2 separate regions of the Homo sapiens genome follow, and region 1 is linked to region 2. The links come from fine-mapping of genetic effects on gene expression. Tissue or cell type: whole blood. Region 2 holds a variant in brackets; the other region holds the start of a gene. All regions are shown on one strand. Distances are between the middles of the regions.

Evidence for each region. PIP is the estimated chance that this variant, and not a neighbour inherited with it, causes the effect.
Region 1: it holds the start of POLR2C, and the variant in region 2 is fine-mapped to the expression of POLR2C in whole blood (TOPMed, PIP above 0.99).

What each region holds. Positions count from the first base shown.
Region 1 is chr16:57,459,202-57,467,201 of GRCh38, reverse strand. It overlaps POLR2C (RNA polymerase II subunit C), which reads right to left and starts at 4,523. Exons shown (of 9, transcript NM_032940.3): 1 at 4,392-4,523; 2 at 4,124-4,173; 3 at 1,181-1,249; 4 at 975-1,027. The coding sequence starts at 4,477. COQ9 (coenzyme Q9) reads right to left here. Exons shown (of 9, transcript NM_020312.4): 7 at 7,482-7,637; 8 at 7,098-7,151; 9 at 5,932-6,613. The coding sequence ends at 6,578. RefSeq lists an enhancer at 4,371-4,665.
Region 2 is chr16:57,418,876-57,426,875 of GRCh38, reverse strand. No RefSeq gene overlaps it. Among named protein-coding and RNA genes, the nearest start is that of CCL17, 18 kb to the right of the region's middle. The variant T/C (reference allele first, on the strand shown) is at 4,090.

The DNA of each region.
Region 1 (8,000 bases), 40 kb before region 2:
GAGTGCAGTGGCGCAATCTCGGCTCACTGCAAGCTCCGCCTCCCGGGTTCATGCCATTCTCCTGCCTCAGCCTCCCGAGTAGCTGGGACTACTTGGGAGCGGGACCACGCTCGGCTAATATTTTGTATTTTTAGTAGAGACAGGGTTTCACCGTGTCAGCCAGGATGGTCTCGATCTCCTGACCTCGTGATAAACCCGCCTCGGCCTCCCAAAGTGCTGGGATTACAGGTGTGAGCCACTGCATCCAGCTGAATATTTCTTTTTTAAAAATACACACATATTTATAAGATATATCAAATTAGCCATCACAAAAATGACATGGCCCTTGAGAATATTAGAAAATGGACTGATTCTGGATCACCCAAAGCCATCAAGAGGGAGTAGCCTTAAGCTGCTGTGTAATGCAGCCTAGTGAAAGGATGAAGGTAACCGACTCCTATCCTACTCTCTCCAAACTCTGAAGGCCTGTTAACATGCCATCAGGGAGCAAACACGACCAGGAGGAAGGGGGTGAGACACTAAGAGTGTGGCCATGTTTAAGCAGCATCACCTGCGAGGGAGGGGACAGCATGAATCTGCAGACACCAGGACTAGTCCCCCAGGAGCTGCTCTTGTGAGACAGCTCCCATTCCCTCTGCTCCTTGCCTACCCCAACCTTCTGTTGACTCCTGTAGCATCCTAAGGCCCCTGCTACTGGGAAGAGATGCTTTGGAAGGAAGAACCTCCACTCTAAGTATAAATGGGCACTGTGGTGGAGCTGCCTAACAACACTCCCTGATGTTCTGCGTGCTAATCAATCTGAAGCCCCATCAGAACGCAGGACCAAGGCCTGCCCAGGCTCTAGACAACATCTCCACGTTGTTGTTCCAGAACTACAACAGTATTCAAGCTGGATGCCAAATGTCAGGAAAAATCCCTTTGAGAACCAAAGCCTCCCCACCAAACCTCACATTCCACCCAATCACACAACATACCCGAGAGTACTGCAGCTTGTCCACAATGTCATCACTAATGAGGGGAATTAATCCTGTAAAAAACAGAAAAGCACTTTAAAGAAAACCAAACAGCCAAGCCAAAATGAGAACCCAGAAGCCTTCTGGGGGTGAGGCTGGAAGGAGGCCCCCTCCTGACACTAGGCACAATACCCTCCCTTTAACCTCCTAGTAAAAGGAGTACTCACCAAGCCTGTGAGCAATGAATTCATCATGAAGAACTGAGGAATTGGCATCAATCTGAACCCAGTCAATGGCTAAAAAATGAAAGAAGCAGACATGGAGTTTAGCCATCAAATTTACCTACAGACTTAATGCAGTGGTTCTCAAGATTTAGGAATCACCTGACACTAAACTGCAGATTGCTGGGCTGATTCCACAGCATTAGAGTGGGGCCCAGGTACTTGCATTTTAATAAGACCCACACACACCACACCTCACCTCCCTGCCCAGGTGAATTTAATGCAGGGGGCTCCCTGCTTCACAGAAAACACTGACTTATAGAATATCATAGAAGTGGAAACATGTTTATTTGAGCTGAGTATTTGCATGAGAAGCACTTAAATCTGCTACCTGTGCCACCACTAAATCCAAGAACATGAACTATTTGAGCACTTCAAAGTCAGGGAAACCCTCACAGAAGCAACACAGACTTATGGGGCCATACCTCATTTTAGGATATAATGACTGGACTGCCCAACTTAGCACTTTTTAAACACTCAATCAACAAATGTTTACTGAATTCTTTTAATGCGCAAAGTATACTAAATATAGAACCCAATCCCTAGCAGCAATGAGCTCGTAGGAGGGTAAAGACTGTATTATCGATCACACATGCTTGACTTAAACACACATTTATTCATTCATAAACATTTGCATGGAACCAACTAAATCCAGGAATCAAATGGCACTGGAGCCCAACTGCCAAACGAGGGACACAGACACTAGGAACAGCGGTCGGAAGAGGACCTCCCCCTGCCAGGCCTCCACCTGCTCTGTCCTGCTATGCTTCCCATTGCTTCCCCAGTCCAAGCCAACTGAGAGAACCCTGACCCAAGCTTTTCTGCCTCTTTAATCCCCCAGCCCTTCCCTCCAGCACACCCTTCCCCTCCTTGCTGTACAGGTTAAGATCCTCTGTGCCTCCTGAAAACTAAGCCTTGCCTGCTCTCTATGCTACAGATGTGACATTCCCTCCCTTTCAACTCCTCTCTCACAAAACTCTGTTCAGACTTCCCTCAAGACACTTGTCATAGTGTGCCTTGTGTCATATTTGTGTATGTTATGTCTATACCTCAAGCTTCAGAAATTCCTTCACGCAGGTCCTGGGATGTCTTTGTATTCCTAGCATGGGTGCTCAATATTATTTGTAGAACTGAATTTGTTGGGAAAGAGGCATTTAGACTCAGAATGGCAGGGCTGCATCATGAAGTACAACTCCCTCACCTGACTCCTGATGAAACTGAGGTCCAGAGGCATGAAGTGCTTAGGCAGGGGGAGGTCCAGCACTCCAAGCTGAATTTAAGAAGTGACTGGGGGGCGGGGGGGTGGGGTGGTGGTGGTAGTGGATAAACTACAATGTTCTCTTGCCTAATCATTTGGCCTGCTTATTTCCTTAAAAGTCTGAATATTTGATGCCACAGCTATGACTTATATTTATTTTGCCTAATCCAAACTCTCTGAGCTGACTCTCAGAAATGCTTGAAGTATTTCATACAAGTATAATCAATGCATTAAGCACCTGGAGCAGAGTGGCTGGAACCAGACCAGAAATTGATCTTCCCTCCTCTAAGAGCCAAGTGCACCACAGCTATGCTTCTCCTGAACTACTGATCAAAATCTACCTTGCTTTAGTGTTGTCTGTGGATTCATCTCTCCCCTACAACCTCACTGTGGACTCCATGAGGGCAAAAACCCTGTTCTCTACAGCTTTGCATTCCCAGAGCTTACCACCATGCCTGCCACTTTCATGCTCCATAAATGCTGTTGAAGGAATAGATTAATAAAAAAGCCATCTACCAGCACTGAGCACTCACTAAACACAAAGCACTTATATGGATTACCTCACTTAATCCTTAACATTACCCTGATAAGGATCATTAGTGGCCGAATGTTACAGATGAGGAAACTGCAGCACACAGAAGTTTAATAACTTGCCCAAGTTTCACAAAAGCAGTAAGTGATGCAGCCATAAGAACGAACGAAATCATGTCCTCTGCAGCAACATGGACGTGGCTGGAAGCCACTATCTTCTTTTTTATTTTCTTTTGTTTGAGAAGGAGTCTCACTCTATTGCCCAGGCCAGAGTGCAGTGGCATGATCTCGGCTCACTGCAACCTCCACCTTCTGGGTTCAATCAATTCTGCCTCAGCCTCCCCAGTAGCTGGGATTACAGGTGGGAGCCACCACACCTGGCTAATTTTTGCATTTTTAGTAGAGGCGGGCTTTCCCCATGTTGGCCAGGCTGGTCTCAAACTCCTGGCCTCAGGTGTTCCTCAGTCTTGGCCTCCCAAAGTGCTGGAATTACAGGCGCGAGCGCGGCCTGGAAGCCATTATCCTAAGAGAATTAACACAGGAACAGAAAACCAAACACCGCATGGGAGCTAAAACTGGGTACGCACGGACATAAAGATGACAATAAACACACTGGTGACTACTAGAGCTGGAAGGGAGGCAGTGGGGCTAGGGGTGAAAAACTACCTATTGCGTACTATGCTCACTACCTGGGTGAAAGGATCATTTATACCCCAAATCTCAGCATCACGCACTATACCCAGGCAACAAACCTGCACCAATGTACCCCTTGACTCCAAAATAAAAGTTGAAAACATTTTAAAAACTTTTGTAACAATAGTAGTGAAAACAGTATTTGAACCCAAGTCTGCACACTGCTAAACCCATGCTTCTCAGCAATGCATACCCAGGACAAGGGTGGACCTAAGTGGCCCGTGGGCGCCAGGGAGGCGGCCACTGAGCCAAGGGCACAGGGTATGGTCAAGTCTCCAGCAATGCACTTTTCTCAGCACTACCACCCTCAGCCCGAACCAAGGACTGGAAGGAGCCCCAAAGAGTGTGTGGGTGGAGAGCGGGGCAGGAACCCGTGGGCGCGGGAACGAGGAAGGGGAGTCGCTTACCTATTATGGGAACCTCAGCGATGAAGACCCTCCGAATCGAATTGGCCACCCTGAAAGATCAAAAGCCAAGGGGCGTGAAGGCGCTGCAGCCTCGACAGGCTGGGCCCGCGCCGCAGGCTCCCAAAGCTAAAGCCCTGGTGCAGGGGGGCAGCTCTGGAAGGACATCGCCCCCACCCCACCCCACTACACCCCCGCCCCCTGCCCCGGGGCCCCGGCTTGGGCCTCCCGGCGCCCCAGAGCCGCCAGCCTCTTCCCTCGGTAGCCTTACGCCAGGTCGGTGTTCTCGATGATGAACTTGACATTCTCGTCAGTGAGCTCCGTGATCCGCACGGTAGGCTGGTTGGCGTACGGCATCTCGCCCAGGGGCCACCAGCCTCCGCGTCTGCTCCGCGGTGACTGCGCGGCGCCACCGCCAACACCGGAAGTCAGTCAGCGAGGCCTCCGCGGCTTCCGCAAAGACGACTCACAGCGCCGCCTGCTGCTCGGAGGCCAGAACTGCCGAGCGTCTTCTGCGGCCTCCTGCTTTAAAATGTACCAGATTCAGCTATCTCGGAGGGTAGTTTGGCAAAACACGCATACGTCCTTCACTTAACAGTAACACTTCTAAGAATTCATACTGCAGAAACACTTGCAGTTGTAAACAAAGATACGAGTGCAGGGACGTTCGTGGTAGTACTGTTTGTACTGTCCATTGATAAGAGACCTGGTGGAGTATACACACATGGAATACTATGAAGCACTTAAAAAGAACTTGTACATCTATAGAAAAACAAAAGTATATTTTAATATGAATGTATATTTTAGCAAAGTATACCTGAATTATAAGTAAATACCCTTTCCCTTGCAGTCTCAAGTATGGACCATGCACTTCTGAAAACTTCAGGAAAAGATACAATGTTCTTTAACCTAATGCTTCCTCTACAGTCTGTGTAGCTGTGGTGGGTGAGTGGGAACTCTTTGTCTCTGCATCCCCAGTGCCTGGCAGTGGGCACCATGTGGGGTGCATGCTCAACAAAGAACTACTGAAGTCCCCTAAACAGACTGGAGAGAGGTTTAAATGGGCCTCAAAAAAAGTGGCTGCTGCTCCAACAGAGAAAAGCTCTAAAATAGAACGTGGCAGGAAATACATTTAAGAGTTGGGAGAAGAGTAACCAGATAAAGAGGAGTTTGCCTTTGCAAAGAGTGACACCTCTTCCTGAAACAGAGGGTGGGCACTGATGGAACCCTGCTCCATAACCTGTGTCATCTTGGTAAATTAAGAATTATGGTTGTCTGCTGAGTGTAAGATGGATGCTATGAAGGAAAAAGGAGAATGCAATGAAAACTGGAACAGCTACTGCGAAAACTTCACAGGATGTCAAGAGATACAAGGAATTGAGAGGTGCAAAAAAGATCCAGTGGAAGACCCACAAGAGATCTGAAATTCAATTAGTTGCTGACTTTCCCCCATTAATATTCAGCTGACAGGCAGAAGAGAGCAAAGCAGAAAACAGAGCTAACCAGACGTGCAAAGGGAACCCAGCCAGTGTAGAGGCTGAGAAAATTACTGGGGCTAAAGAATGTACCACTAAAATCGTCAGACAAGAGCAGCCAAGGGAGCTGATGGTCTGTGGGAAGGCTTCTGTTACCCGTATTTTACTGATGGGAAGACTTGAGCCCAGAGACGCAGAGGTACTATAATTACCACTATGTATTAGGCAGTGGCAGCGCCAGAACACAGGTCTCCTGGCTGCCATAACTTAACCTGTCTCCCTCTGGGGTCCTGGATACCTATCATGATTGATAAGGAAACTAACTACACAATGGGAAACTACTTCAAACATATTTATTATTTTTACAGACTCAAAATACACTAATAATCCTGCAATGCATGCTGGTGTCATGTGACACCAGGCCTGGAATCACACCTCTGTCCAGCAGGCACTTGTCTCAGGTGAGGCAGTTTTCTGAGGGGGCTCCCAGGAACAGCATCTCAGGACACCTGAGAGGGAGGGGGCTGCAAGGAACACCTCTGTGTGCACACGCCTGTGCTGTGCTGGAGATGAGCTGTCACCTTGAGGTGGCGTCAGACCTTGACTCTGGCTTGGGAGCCCCAAGGTTAAGGGAAGGTTAAGACATGATCAAGGTGCCCATGAGATTGTGACAGGGACATGCTGGGTTTCTGTGGCTTGACTGCTTGGATGAACATCTCATTTTTCAATCACACAGTTGCAGTGCAGAAAGGCATCAGGAGGCTTGGTCTGGTATTAGGAACTGAAGAAGCAGCCCAATCCCTGACCAGAACGGTAGCATCAAATGCCTTGTGGTTTCCAGGTGGCTGTGGTAGTGACTCAGGAGTCCTTTAGTGTGTTCTCGTGAACACCAGGTTATGTGGATGGCACCTTATACTTTTCAAAGCTCTTTCAATCTGTCCGCTCATTCTCTTCTAGGCATTGTAGCTTATACCCCTTCCTCTCACCGACGCTGGTTTAGACCTGTCAAGTTCTTGAGCTGACACGGGAATGGAAATAAAGAGAATAGTGAGGGCTTACCTTGCCTCTAGACTCTAATAGAAAAGACCTAGCTTTTCTTTTTCTCTTTTTTTTTTTCTTTTTTGCATAGAGACAGGGTTTTGCTATGTTGGCCAGACTGTCCTCAAACTCCTGGGCTCAAGCGATCTTCCCAAATCGCTGAGATGATATGCATGAGCCACTGCACCTGGCCAAGATCCAGGTTTGCAAGGTGGCAGGTGTGGCTATGATACAGAGACTTGATATACCAGGGTCCCAGGAGTCAGTGATATCTCCTGATGACAGGAAAAAATAAAGAAGTGAGGTTTTTGGAATCAAGACACTAGGGCTGAACCATTGTCAGCCTTATTATTAGATTATTGTTTCCAGGTTAGGGCTACAAAATGATGTGAAGTCAGTAACACATGTATCACAGAGCCGGAATGGGAGAGAGGAGGGGCAGGGATGTGCTGGGCAGTACTCACCGTCACTGCTGCACCCATGAGTCCTTGCACCAGTGCCTCTCCTGTGGACTTTACCTAGAAGGAGTCAGTGTCAGGTTCCCTTAGGCCACCAACACAAAGTTAAACTTGAGACAGGCAGGACAAATCAGGAGGCCTATGAGCCCCAAAAGGTGAAGACAAGGGGGCCACGTTACTGGAAGGAGAGCTTTGGACAACACAATCACAAATGCAAATGAGCAAAGTGTGGCTCTTAGGGAAGGGCTGGCCTGAGGAAGAACCAGCCAGGCCCTTGGGAAGGCCCTCAGGACTGTCAGCTGAGGCCAAAAGGGAGCAAGACCAGCTGTGACCTGAGGAGAATAGGTATGCCTTCTAAAGAGGGTTCCCCAATGGCTAGTCCCCACCTACCTGCTTGGCAGTGTGGCCCATGTTCATTGCATCATTAACCCGGTTTTCCAGGAAGCGCCAAGTGTCCTCAAAGTCTGGAGAGGAGTCCTGCATCATCACCAGCTCTGTTGTGTTGTAGATGGCAGCCAGCATGGCTCGGCGGGTGTACCAGTTAAACTGTAAAGAAACCCACACTACCGCTGTGGGCTGGTGCAAGTCTGAGGCAGTTCCTACCCAAGGCCATGGGAACTCCTGGGTTCCCTCTTGACTACTTCTTGACTGTCACAGATACATCTGGCCCTCTGGACAACACTACCATCTCAAACTTGACTGAGCATCAGAATTACCTACTTGATTAAAAATGCAAGCTCCTGGGCCCAACCTCTTAAGAGTAGAGTCAATGGATCTAAATAAAGTGCCAGGAATCAGGAAACTTAATAAGTATCCCAGATGATTTGGCTACATCCAATCCATTTTGGAACTGCTAGTAGAAAGCCTACATCTTAAGACATCTGAGTCCCAGAAGACGCTGTAATCAGC
Region 2 (8,000 bases):
ATGTTAGCCAGGCTGGTCTCAAACTCCTGACCTTGTGATTCACCTGCCTCGGCCTCCCAAAGTGCTGGGATTATAGGTGTGAGCCACTGCCTGGTCCGATAGTAACATAATTATTAAGCTGCAGGGCCACTGTTGGTTGCTTCTGCTGCACTTGCCCATATGAAGGACAAAAATCTCAACCTCCATGTTGAGGACAAGAGATCCTGAGCCAGAGCTTCCTGGACAGGCCTAGCAAATGCCACAAGCCCTCGCCGATTCTTGCTCTGAGTCCCAGCTGTTGCTGGCAAAAAGGATACTGCCATCTCCTGTCTGCTGCAGTTGGCATAGTTAATGATTTTATGCCGGCAGTTGCCGTGTCACTCCACAGGGTCCGGGGCAAGCCAGCTAGCTCGGAGTCTGGGGCCCAGAGTGAGGGAAGAGTCCTTGCCAATCAGCAGGACACACCTGGGCCGGGGGCTCAGACACACCTGCACCTACACCTGCACCCAGTGAGGCAACAGCCAGACAGGCTAGAGGTTTCAGCGTTCAGCAAGCTCACAGTATTGGAGCCAACATGGGCTCTTATAATCACTGAATGCAACCTCATCTTACATCTGAGGAAAGGGTGAGACTGGGAGGGTAACCTGCTGCCATCATTCACCTGAGCACCTCTTAAAAGTACTGAGGCCTGGCCGGGTGTGGTGGCTCACGCCTGTAATCCCAGCACTTTGGGAGGCTGAGGTGGGCAGATCATGAGGTCAGGAGATTGAGACCCTCCTGGCTAACACAGTGAAACCCCATCTCTACTAAAAATACAAAAAATTAGCCGGGTGTGGTGGTGGGTGCCTTGTAGTCCCAGCTACTCGGGAGGCTGAGGCAGGAGAATCGCTTGGACCTGGGAGGCAGAGCTGGCAGTGAGCCGAGATCACACCACTGCACTCCAGCCTGGGAGACACAGCGAGACTCCGTCTCAAAAAAATAAAGTACTGAGGCCTGGCCCGGCACAGTGGCTCACACCTGTAATCCCAGCACTTTGGAAGGCCGAGGCAGGTGGATCACTTGAAGTCAGGAGTTCGAGACCAGCCTGGCCAACATGGTGAAACCCCACCTCTACTAAAAATACAAAAATTAGCCAGGTGTGGTGGTGCATGCCTGTAATCCCAGCTACTTTGGAGGCTGAGGCAGTTGAATCGCTTGAACCCAGGAGGCGGAGGTTGCAGTAAGGCAAGATGGTGCCATTGCCCTCCAGCCTGGGTGACAAGAGTGAAACTCCATCTCAAAAAAAAAAAAAAGTACTGAGGCCTGATGTCCTTGGATGTTCTGAGTCAGCCCAATGTGGACCGAGATGGGGCTGGGGGTGTAATATTTCTTCTTTTTTAGTTTTCTAAAGTCTCTAGCTTAGAACTTGGCAGTGTACATTTGGGACTTCCCCCTTCCGAAATCATTCAAAATCAGTAAATGGAGGGGACAGCAGAGACAAACCATTACCTTCCTTGGGGTTAGGAGGCAGCCAAAACAGAACCACAAAATACTTGGAAGGAGATGAGAGCAGAGGCTTTGGAGCCAGAGTGTGGACAGGAGAGAAGGGAGAGCAGATGAGGGTGCAAACCTGCTCCAGATGAAGATACCCCTGAGCTGCAGAATGGGCCCTCGTGTGTAACAGTGGGGTCCAAGGGCACAGGCAGGCAGTGGGGCTGAAGGGAGAACCCCACAGCGGAGCCTGGCATGCTGGAAGCACCCTGGTCTCTGCACTGGAGAAGAGAGACTGTGAACAGCCCAGCTGCCTGTCCTTGTGGCAGGGAGAAGGCTAAACAGAAACCTTACCAAGTATTGGTGAAAATGTGGCCGGGTGAGAACTCCCTGTTGGTAGGGATACTTTGGGCAATGTCACCCTCATGTCACTTTGAACACTGGCTGCATATTAGAATCACCTGGATAGCTTCCAAAAATAAACCAAAACAAAACAAAACAAAAGCCTATTCCTGGATTTCCTCTCCAAAACCCAATTCAGTCAGAATCCCTTGGAGTAGGGCCCAGGGCATCAGCATTTTTGCAAAGCTCTCCCAGGTCATTGTAGAGTGCAGCCAGGATTGAGAACCACTGCCCTAGAGAAATTCTTTGGCCCATGCACCAGGAGACAAGTATTCAAAGCAGCAGTACTTCTAAGAGACAATCCAAATGTCCATTAACAAGAGCGTGAATGAATGAGCTGTGCGTCCAAGCAGTGGAACACTGCACAGCAGTGATGAGCTATAGCTGTGCACTTCAACATGGAAGAATCACGAAGCAACAGAAGCCACAAAAGCAAGTCACAGAAGTGTGTGTGTGTGTGTGTGTGTGTGAGAAATATTTCATTTACATAAAGTTCAAAAACATGCCAGATGCATCAGCCTGTCATTAAGGATATACACATACATATGTGCATATACATGATGTATACACACATGTATGTGTGTGACAAAACTAATAAAGAGCTCAAGGGGAATGATATAATTCAGGACCACAGTTGGCTCCAAAGGGAGACGGGAGAAAGAGGCAGGACTTCATCAGCAGGAAAGTTCTATTTCTTTAGGCTGGACGGTGGGTATACAAGTGTTTATTTTTATGTGTTTGTATACCTGCTATATACATGATGGATTTGTATTTCTTCTTCTTTTTTTTTTTTTTTTTTTTTTTTGAGACAGAGTCTCGCTCTGTCGCCCAGGTCGGACTGCGGACTGCAGTGGCGCAATCTCGGCTCACTGCAAGCTCCGCTTCCCGGGTTCACGCCATTCTCCTGCCTCAGCCTCCCGAGTAGCTGGGACTACAGGCGCCCGCCACCGCGCCCGGCTAATTTTTTGTATTTTTTAGTAGAGACGGGGTTTCACCATGTTAGCCAGGCTGGTCTTGAACTCCTGACCTCAGGTGATCCACTCGCCTCAGCCTCCCAAAGTGCTGGGATTAACAGGCGTGAGCCACCACGCCCGACCAGTGGATTTGTATTTCTAAGAAACTTCATTGAAAAAACCTGAAAACCTCTCACATGAAACCCTGGGTCTTAAGAAGAATACTGCTAGCCCAGGACAAAGTCCTGCTTCTCCCCGACACGAACCTCTGTGGAACACTTGACCCCGTTATCATCTCATGCAAAATTTTTAAAGTGGAACTAGTACGGCATCTATATATATAAAGCTGCCTCAGAATAATAGTAACAGAGGGAGAAGGTTGTCACAGAGCAGGTGAATACTGTTTGTGACCAAAATTTTTGCTACAAATTACACAAATGTATAAAATAGCTTTGTGCTAAGTAGGGGTGGGGATGGGGCAGCTCTTGGGTGGCTCTTACTTCACCCCTCTCGGGGAAAGCAGGGACAGAAGCCCCCACTCAGCCCTCAGTGACTTCAGATCTCACCTTCAGTGGTCACTCCTGGTGGTCAAGCTGGTGGTCTGGTCATTGGTTACCCGTGGCCCACCATCCAGCATGAGGCTTTCACCTCTGCAAACCTCTGTGCTGATCTGGAGACTGCGTTCAGACTCAGCTGGGTTAGAATGCTCCTTTCTTTCCTTCCTTCTTTCCTCCCTTCCTTCCCCTCCCTCACTCCTTCCCTCTCTTCCTTCCTTCCCCTCCTTCCCTCCCTCCCTTCCCCTCCCTCACTCCTTCCCTCTCTTCCTTCCTTCCCCTCCTTCCCTCCCTCCCTCCTTCATTGCTTCCCCTCCCTCCCTTCCTCCCCCTCCCTCCCTCCCTTCCCTCCCACCATCCATCCTTCCTTCCTTCTCCTCTTCCCTTCCTTCCCCTTTCTTCCTTTTCCTTCCTTCCCTTCCTTCCTTCCTCTCTCCATCCCTTCCCCTCCCTCCCTCCCTTTCCTCCTTCCTCCCTCCCTCCCTCCCTTCCTTCCTCCCTCCCTCCCTTCCTTCCTTTCCTCCTTCCTTCCTTCCTTTTTGATTTTCTATTATTACTTAAACATTTTTTCTCTTAAATCATGAAAGATTTCAAATACAGAGAATTTCCAATAGACAACTAGCTTTGCTGTGTGTGATTCTGATCACTCCTTTTTTTCGTACACAAGTGATACAGCAGTGGCAAAATCCCTTCGCTGTCCTCCCAGAGGACTCCTTTGTCCTGAGCTGATA[T/C]ATGTCTCATCCAAGCCTGCTACTCTACAGAAAAGTGAATATTGAATATGTCTTTTTTATGAAATTCACATAACATAAAATGAACGATTTAAAATAAACAATTCAGCAGCATTTGGTACATTCACAGTGTGGTGCAACCACCACCTCTATCTAGTTCCAAAATGTTTTCATTGCCCTGAAAGGAAACCCCATCCCCAGTAAGCAGTCCCTTCCGGTCTTCCTCTCCCACCATCTCTGGTCACCACCAGTGGGCGTTCTGACTCCATGGAGTTACTTCTGACATTTCATATGAATGAAATTATACACTGTGTGACCTTCTGCGTTTGGCTTCTTTAGCTTAACAGAGTGTTTCGAGCTTCACCCATATCGTAGGGCGTATCCATGCAGAAAAATCTTCCTTATATGGTTAGACCACTTTTGTTTATCCATTCAGCTGTTGATAGGCCTTGGGCTGTTTCCAGCTTTGTGCTGTAGTAAATATCCCACCATGAACATGTATGTGCAAGGACTTAACAAGTCCTTTGAAAGCTGATTTTTGGCTGTGACAGTTTCTCAGACTTTCCTTGTTTTGGATGAGCTTGATCATTTTGAGGAGTACTGGTCAGGGTTGGTTGGTTGGTTTGTTTTGAGACAGAGTCTCACTCTGTTGCCCAGGCTGGAGTGCAGTGGACTGATCTGGGCTCACTGCAGCCTCTACCTCCCAGGTTCAAGCAATCCCCCTGCCTCGGCCTCCCAAGTAGCTGGGATTACAGGCATGCACCACCATGCCCAGCTAATTTTTGTATTTTTAGTACTGTCAGAGTTTCACCCTGTTGGCCAGGCTGGTCTTGAACTCCTGACCTCAAGTGATCCGCCTGCCTCGGCCCCTCAAAGTGCTGGGATTACAGGTGTGAGCCACCATGCTTGGCTGAAGGCTGGCTTCTTAAAGCCCTGATCCCTTTGCTCGTCTGAGTATTTCACCCCCGTGGTTGCCATGCTGGCTTTGGAGAAGGGCACAGGGAATATCCAGGTGATGGCAGTTCAATTATGAGGAAATGGCAGGTTTTCTTTTCTTTCTTTTCTTTTCTTTTTCTTTTTTTTTTTTTTGAGACAGAGTCTCACTCTCACTCTGTCACCCAGGCTGGAGTGCAATGGCGTGATCTCGGCTCACTGCAACCTCTGCCTCCCGAGTTCAAGTGATTCTCCTGCCTCAGCCTCCCGAGTAGCTGGGATTACAGGCACGCGCCACCATGCCTGGCTAATTTTTGTATTTTTAGTAGAGACGGGGTTTCACCATGTTGGTCACACTGGTCTCGATCGCTTGACCTCATGATTGTGAGCCACTGCGTCCGACCAGAAACGGCAGGTTTTCTAAGACTGTGGTCCGCTAAGGGCGATGTGAGAGGTAGAGGAGTAGCCATATTGGCACATCCCCAAACAGGTGAGAGAAGGTCCAGTTCCATTGCTTCATGGAGAAATAGGCTCAGGCAGGTGAGGCTCAGGCAGGTGAGGCGCATGTGTCCAGGTCCGACGGCCAGTCAGTGGCAAAGCAGAGACTCCAAACAGGTCCCTGACCCTTTGTGTTAAAATGTACTTTCGAAGATAAACTTTTTTTAGCTCCCACATATGAGTGAGAACATGAGATATTTGTCTTTCTGTGCCTGGCTTATTTCACTTAACATAATGACTGTCCATCCATTTTGCTGCAAATGACAGGATTTCCTTCTTTTTTTATGGCTGAATCGTACTCTGTTGTGTACATGTACCAAATTTATTTATTTATTACTCCATTGATGGACACGGGTTGATTTCATATTTTGGCTATTGTGAATAGTGCTGCAATAAACATGGGGGTGCAGGTATCCCTTTGATATATTGATTTCCTTTCCTTTGGATAAATACCCAGTAGTAGGATTGCTGGATCATATGGTAGTTCTATTTAGGGGAGAGGGGTGATGGGGAGAGATTGGTTAATGGGTACAAACAAACAGCTGGATAGAAGGAATAATTTCCAGTGTTCGATTGCACAGTAGGGTGACTATAGTAAACAATTTATTGTGTATTTCTTTTTTCTTTCTTTCTTTTCTTCCTTCCTTCCTTCCTTCCTTTCTTTTTCTTTCTTTCTTTCTTTCTTTGAGATGGAGTTTCACTCTTATCGCCCAGGCTGGAGTGCAATGGTGCAATCTTGGCTCACTGCAACCTCTCCCGGGTTCAAGCGATTCTCCTGCCTCAGCCTCCCGAGTAGCTAGGATTACAGGTGCCAGCCACCACATCCAGCTAATTTTTTTGTATTTTTAGTAAAGATGGGGTTTCATCATGTTGGCCAAGCTGGTCTAGAACTCCTGACCTCAGGTGATCTACCTACTTTGGCCTCCCAAAGTGCTAGGATTACAGGCGTGAGCCACCATGCCCAGCCTTTTTTTTCTTTTTGAGACAGGGTCTCCCTCTGTAACCCCGGCTGGAGTGCAGTGGCACCATCACAGTTCACTGCAGCCTTGACCTGCTGTGCTCAAGTGATCCTCCCACCTCAGCCTCCTGAGTAGCTGGCAGCACAGGCGCATGCTACCATGCCTGGCTAATTTGTGCATTTCGTAAAGACTGAGTCTCACTATGTTGCCCAGACTGGTCTCAGACTCCTGGGCTCAAGTGATCCTCCCACCTTGGCCTCCCAGAGTGCTGGGATTACAGGTGTGAGCCACTATGCCCAGCCTATTGTATATTTCAAAATAGCTAGAAGAGAAGATTTGAAACGTTCCCAACACAGTGAAATGATAAATGTTCGAGGTGATGGATATCCTGATTACCTTGATCTGATCACTATGCATTGTATGCTTGTGTCACAGTATCATATGTATCCCATAAATATGTACAATTACTATGCATCAATTTAAAAAATTTAAAATGTACCCCCAGGATTTGAATTGATGGAGGTGACTGAGTGACAACACAGAGCGACCAAGGACACTGAAAGAATTCATCACTTGCATCTCCCAGGAGAACAGGGCATGGCACACACGCAGGACCACACACGGGGCCACAGGGGGAGCACCAAGTTTGGTCAGGAGGCTGAAAGGAAGGATCAGAACAGCACAGGCCACAGCCTTTTGTGGGGTTTCCACCCGAAGTGCAAGGCAGGCCAGGGGAAGCAGCCCGGGTCTGGCTAGTTGGAATAATTCCAGGGGGCCTTGGGCTTAGGGGCCGTCCCTAGTTGTCTCTACCTGGCTCTGGGTGATTTAGGGCAGGGGAAATACTGGCTTGGTGTGAGAGTTAAATAGAGATGGTTGGGGGGCCTGTGATTGGGATTGGTTGGAGGGTTTGTAACTATTATTACTTTCAAACACTTGCAAAAACCAGCTTGCAGGGGAGGTATAAATGCTTTTGGCCCTGTGATTTGGCCCTGTGATAAATGGATGCCAAATAGACCAAATACAGTCTCTAAGAAAACACAGTGAAACACCCCAGCCCACAGCTCTTGGCACTGCCCAGGTTGCGTCTGGAGTTAGTGGCCCTGCTAGTCCCAGCAGGGTTTCTTCCTTCTTCCTCTTCATCCAGCAAACCCCAGACAGTGTAATTGGCGGTTTCTTTGCTTCTGTTCCCACAAGAGGAGAGCCGGCCAGCTACAGACACCCCTGCCCCAAGGCCTAGTGCAGCTACAACCAGATGTGGCTGATCCCAGCCCCTGGGGACAGCGATGGGGCCGGAGTCTGGCTGGTGGGGTCAGGGCCCCTGGCGCATCAGCCTCAGAACTTCCTCCTAAGAGCAGAGTGCCCTCTGGTGGGCCACTGGAAAACAACCCAATTCTAATTTCCACGTTTGGAGATGCAATATGCTTCAAGCCGGGTTATTAGGGCTCCCCAGGAAATTTCTCTTTCCCCACTAGTGCCCCTTGTGGAATTCACCTGAGCAGCACTGATGAAAATGTATAAATCAAA